Regions from separate parts of the Homo sapiens genome. Here region 2 is linked to region 1. The links come from fine-mapping of genetic effects on gene expression. Tissue or cell type: transverse colon. Region 1 holds a variant in brackets; the other region holds the start of a gene. All regions are shown on one strand. Distances are between the middles of the regions.

Region 1 (2,757 bases):
GATCATAGCTCTCTGCAGCCTCGACCTCCCAGGCTTAAGGGATCCTCCCACCTCAGCCTCCTAAGCAGCTGGGACCACAGGCACACATGTGCCACCATACCTGGCTAATTAATTTTTTTTTTTTTTTTTTTTGCACAAACGGGGTCTCCCCGTGTTGCCCAGGCTGGTCTGGAACTCCTTGGCTCAAGTGATCCTCCTACCTTGGCCTCCCAAAGTGCTGGGATTACAGGCATGAGCCACTGTGCCTGGCCAGGGCCCCTCTCTCCACAGTCCTTTTATATTTGTGTCACCTACTCTTTCTCCTACATCTTCCTTCTGAGGCCCAGCAGGCCGGACATGATTGGCTCTACTTTGTGAGAGAACAGGGCCGTGGAAAGCAGAGAAACACCCTGCAACCTTGTCTCCCTCTAAAAAGGGCTAGAAAAAGGAGACTTGGGAGTTAACCCAACAGACCCCCAAACTAAACTTCTGTGGAACACAAGGAAGAGAGTTAGAAACACAGAAGAAGAAAGCAAATCGTCACTTGCGGTGTTCTTTGGAGAGGGGCTTTCTGTGCAGACGTCCAGTGAAGCCCCCAGGCCGTGGGAAGCCCGCAGAGCAGAGTAAACAGGAAACGCCGGGAAGCTATTTTTATTTGGTGCCGTCTTTACTTTCCCCTGTTTCAGTGGAAAATGAGTCTGAATTCCACAAAACTCCTTAGTGAACAACAAATATAACTGGAGGCAGTGCCAAGACTGTCATTCCTCAGCAGTGGTTTGGACACGTTTCTTTTCTGCGGACATCTTGGAAGGCTCAGGCCCATGCTGGGCAGGAAACAGGTGGTTTGCTTTAGAGAAGGCCCGTGGAAAGGCCAGCAAGGCAAGCCCTGTGCCCCGGGTGACAGATTTCTGTCCTCCCCTGCAGAATCCTGTTTTCCTGTTAGCGACTGAGAAGCAGGGTGGGCCCTGTCATGTTCCGGACAGCAGTGTCCCAGGTTGCCACCCCGAGACCCCCAAGCCAAAGGAGAAAGGTGGCCATTGCGTACCAGGTTCCGTGGGGGTGCCCACCCTGTTCCAAGGCACAGCAGCGGAGCCACAACCTGGTGCAGGAGTTCCTAGCTTGGGGGTGGTGAGAGCCCAGGGGATGGGGCTGCGCTACTTGGAGGCGCCTCTTCTCCCGCGACCCGGTTCATTTCTCTGGTTTTGCCCTAAGAGCCACCTGCTCAGATTTGCATTCCTAGGTGGACAGAGAGTCAAGGAAGGAGGTGTTTAAAGGGCTCTTTTGCTGTTGTGCTCCCCATTTTTATCCTGTCTGTGGCTGAGGGAGTTGACCTTTCTCTCCACACTGAAAAGGGTTCCCAGTATGTCCCCTGCTCCCTCAATGTCTTTTTATGCATCATCGC[A/G]CCCCACTCCCAACACACACACACACACACACACACACACACACACACACACACACACACACACAAATACTCACTCAGCAGATGCCTCAGCCGTCATCCAGTGACCATGCATTGAGAGTACTCTACATACCTTTAAAAAATAAGGGTATACCGCTCATTAAGATTAGGCCTGGGATCCACCAGGGACTCCTGATCATTTTCTTGGGCCCACTTTCTTCCATCTTCTATCTGAAGGTTGTCCCCTGCCACTATGGACTCTCACTGAACAGTCCTGCACCATAGTGTGAATACTGGAAATGATGGTTTTCATGAAGTATTTCTCAAATGAACTCATCCCTTCCCTGTCTGGTGCCAACAGCCTGATCTATCTATTGTCTTCTGGAAACCCAGTGACTCCCATGGAACTCAGGCCCTTTGGTGGCTCGGAAGAGTCTCTCCAGCCAGCTGGAGGGAGTTGGCTGTTACTGTAAGTGTGCCATGAACTTTATACACCTGCAACAGGTCCTGGGCTTTGCTCTCCTGGTCACCTCTCTCAGAGTCTTTGTTTTCCTTGCAGTATTTTCTTACTTCCCCTGTCTCTGCCAACAGATTTGGCTCTTAGCTCATTTACTCTCATGATTCACTCTTCCTTGTATACTATTAACCTTGGCTTGCCAAGGCCCTCTGTGGTCCCCTTGTACCTTTATATCTCTCTGGGAAGCCTTCCAGTATCGGCTCCCACTCCTACCTCCTTGACTGTCTCCATGCCTCTCACCCCAAGTTCTGGAGAGTGAGATTTTGGATGGCCCAGCCCATTCTTCTCTGGAGACAGCTGTTTTGCTCGAGGCCATCTCAGAGGTCACTGTTCAGCTCATAGCCTCGTTATGCTTGATCATTTCTGGTAGGATGTGATGAGCCACAAATGCAAAAGTAGAGTTCAGTCATTATTTCCTGAATATCTTTTATGCCATCTTATACTGAGAGTGACTGCCTAAGGAAGATGTGGAGTAACGTCCTTAAATTTTTTTTTTCAGACGGAGTCTCACTCTGTCACCCAGGCTGGAGTGCAGTGGTACCAGCTCAGCTCACTGCAAGCTCTGCTTCCCAAGTTCACGCCACTCTCCTGCCTCAGCCTCCCGAGTAGCTGGAACTACAGGCGCCCACCACCACGCCCGGCTTATGTCTTGTATTTTTAGTAGAGACGGGGTTTCACTGTGTTAGCCAGGATGGTCTCGATCTCCTGACCTCGTGATGCACACGCCTCGGCCTCCCAAAATGCTGGGATTACAGGCGTGAGCCACCGCGCCCAGCCCTTAAATTCTGATAGGTGAGTTTTATTGTTGTTGTTTTTGAGTGTTATTTGCCAGTGTGCATGGATAGGTGAGTTTTTGGAAAGA
Region 2 (2,628 bases), 110 kb after region 1:
TGGATTACAAACATTGATCAAGAGGCTCTGAGTACCCTCATTTTTCCTATTTTTATATCTTTTATGATGAAATGACTTAAAGCAATACTCTCCCCTCTTGAAAACTAATAAAGTGAACATGCTTATTTATCTTACTTATTCTTTATACAAATATATTCTCTTCTGCATTCAGAAATTAATATTTAGAACACTTCAGGCATAAAAGGAATCCAGATCTTTGATAATTGGTTAAACTCTCCGATTTAGGACAACAGCAACAAATATTTTCTGATTATATTGTTGCAAAAATAAAAGTATCCATGGTTTTGTTAAAGAACAAGAACAAAGTAACACATTTAATGAAAACAGGAGGAAGCCTGGAATCCACCGTGATAAAACTTAGTTGCAATATGAACGCTGCTAGAGGAAGGGCTGGCCAGAACACTTCCTCATCTTAAACCAAGCCAAAAATAAATGGGCGGCTCCAAGTCCCTTTGATTTTGTTAAATGTATATTTCCAGTGTAAACTGGCGTTGTTTAAGTTAACAAAGTTTTCCCAAAGGGCCGGTGGGAAAGAATGAGAGTCCTGCAAATGCAACCTGAGAAAATGTGTTCCTCGCACGGAAATGGAAGAGCTGTGTTGAGATACCAGGGACACACGCAGGGCATCTGCGCGAGGTGACATTAGGCTGCCCTTAATGAGTTTTCTGCTTCTGATAACAGGGTGTCACTTTTTTCTTTTCTTTTAACTGTAAAAGGATCCTGGGGTGAAAATGAGTGAATTGCCCCCACACTCCTAGATTCCTTCCGGGAGAAGAGGGCGGACGCAGGCTGGGGAGGCGGGATCGGGACCCGGAGGTCCCAGGAACGGGTGGCTGAGGTCAAGGCCGAAGACCTGGGCGCCCACTCCCAGTGCCGGGTGCCCGGGAGAGGAAGACTGGGCGGACCCCCGCGCTTCCGGATGAGGCGGACTTAGGTCAATGCGGGAAACATTGCATGTCACCTCTTCCCACTCGGAGAGGCCGGGTGTCTTCCTGAGAGCTGGCAGGAAAGCGGCCGAGGCGCAGAGGCGCCCGGAGCCAGCCGCCCTGGCCGCGTCCCCACCGGGCTGCGGTGGCTGCGGGGCGGCCCTTACCTGGTTCCTGCGGTACCAGTCGCCCGAGAGGGAGCCGTTGCCGGCGCCTGGTGCCCCGTACGTGAAATTCAGTGACAGCTCGTCCAGGGCGGCCGAGGCGGAGTCCCCGGGGCCCGCGGGCGCCACCGCTGCCATGAGGTCTCGCTCCCGGCGCTCGGGCTCCGGCTCGGGCTGCGGCCGCCTCCCCGCCCTGTTGCACCGCGAGGAGGCCGCGCCGCAGCCACTTCCTGCTCGGTGCCCGGGCGAGGCGGGCGCGCCGAGGCCACCTGGCTCCCGCCCCCGCGCGGCCGTAGGTGCTCCCAGCCTGGCCGGGCGCTGCCTCCTCTCCTCCTCCGGTGCGAGGTGTCCTCGGGGAGCCCGGCGGTCTGCGGCCTCCCGGGGCCGTCCAGCTCGCACCGCGCCCTCCTTCCGCTGGGCCAGTGTCTGCATCCTCGGGGCCGCACTGCCCAAGGGGGCAATCCCCGCGGCCGTCCGCAACGGGTCCCCGCGCCTGTCGGGGCCAGAATCAGATCATCTCCGTTGTAAACATTTGTCCAAGTCAATGGAAGAGGAGGAGACACTGACTAACCCAAAGCAGCTATCATCTCCCATCTCTACCTGGCAATTCCAGTCCTCTATCACATATGTAGTGTTTCTCACCGATATTTTAAAAATTGATTGCATATGAAAAAGTCATGAGTTCCCAGAAATATTGTAAGCAATATGAGAAAAAAAGATCCGAGCGATTGAATCTCAGTGCCAGTGCTTGATAGATCCTTAGTAAATATTCCTTGAATGAGGAATGTGGTAGCCATAGGACCCCAGTGTGCGATGACTGGATTGGGTTTGCTTCAGATGGGATCAGGTGGAGTTGCTGAAAAGTTGCCAGCTACTGTATATATGAATTTAGGATGAAAGATAAATGTTGTTATTAATCTTAAGAACTCTAACGAGATGTTCTGGTTTTACCTGTATTCAAATTCTAATGTGTGACCACAAATGATCTGTAGGGTATTTCTCACTTTAAAAAAACCATGATTCTATACTGTTGCCTGAAGGCTGATAGTTGCCTTCTTTTGTTTACACAATGCTGAGGTTTTTCTTAGATAATGTGCTTTGACTTCCATGAGTTCATGAAAGAGAGACCTTCAAGAAAAGAGAATTGCTGCCTAGAAGGGAGCAGGGACAGTTTTCAGTGTTTCTTAGGGGAAATGTGCAAATGAGAGAAAAGAGTGAGAAAAAGTCATTTCACATACAGAAAAAACAAGACATGTCGTCTCAGAAATTGTGTAGTTTCTTGCTTAAGCACTCGAGATGTTCAGTGAACAGCTAACAATTGTAGGTAACTATTCCCAATTTTAAGAGGCTGATTTACTTCAAATAAATATCTGAAGGAAAAAGGTCTCTATTTGTTATATTACATTTTATTTTATTTTTTGAGACAGGGTCTTGCTCTGTTGCCCAGGCTGGAGTGCAGTGGTGTGATCTTGACTCACTTTAGCCTCATATTCCTGGGCCCAAGTGATCCTCCCACC

Evidence for each region. PIP is the estimated chance that this variant, and not a neighbour inherited with it, causes the effect.
Region 2: NIPAL2 starts here. The variant in region 1 is fine-mapped to the expression of NIPAL2 in transverse colon (GTEx, PIP 0.96).

Annotation. Positions count from the first base shown.
Region 1 is chr8:98,183,654-98,186,410 of GRCh38, forward strand. All of the region lies in intron 2 of NIPAL2-AS1 (NIPAL2 antisense RNA 1), which reads left to right. Among named protein-coding and RNA genes, the nearest start is that of NIPAL2-AS1, 8.6 kb to the left of the region's middle. The variant A/G (reference allele first, on the strand shown) is at 1,382.
Region 2 is chr8:98,292,889-98,295,516 of GRCh38, forward strand. It overlaps NIPAL2 (NIPA like domain containing 2), which reads right to left and starts at 1,347. Exons shown (of 11, transcript NM_001321635.2): 1 at 1,115-1,347. The coding sequence starts at 1,249. All of the region lies in intron 5 of LOC105375659 (a long non-coding RNA gene), which reads left to right. RefSeq lists a silencer at 867-1,586.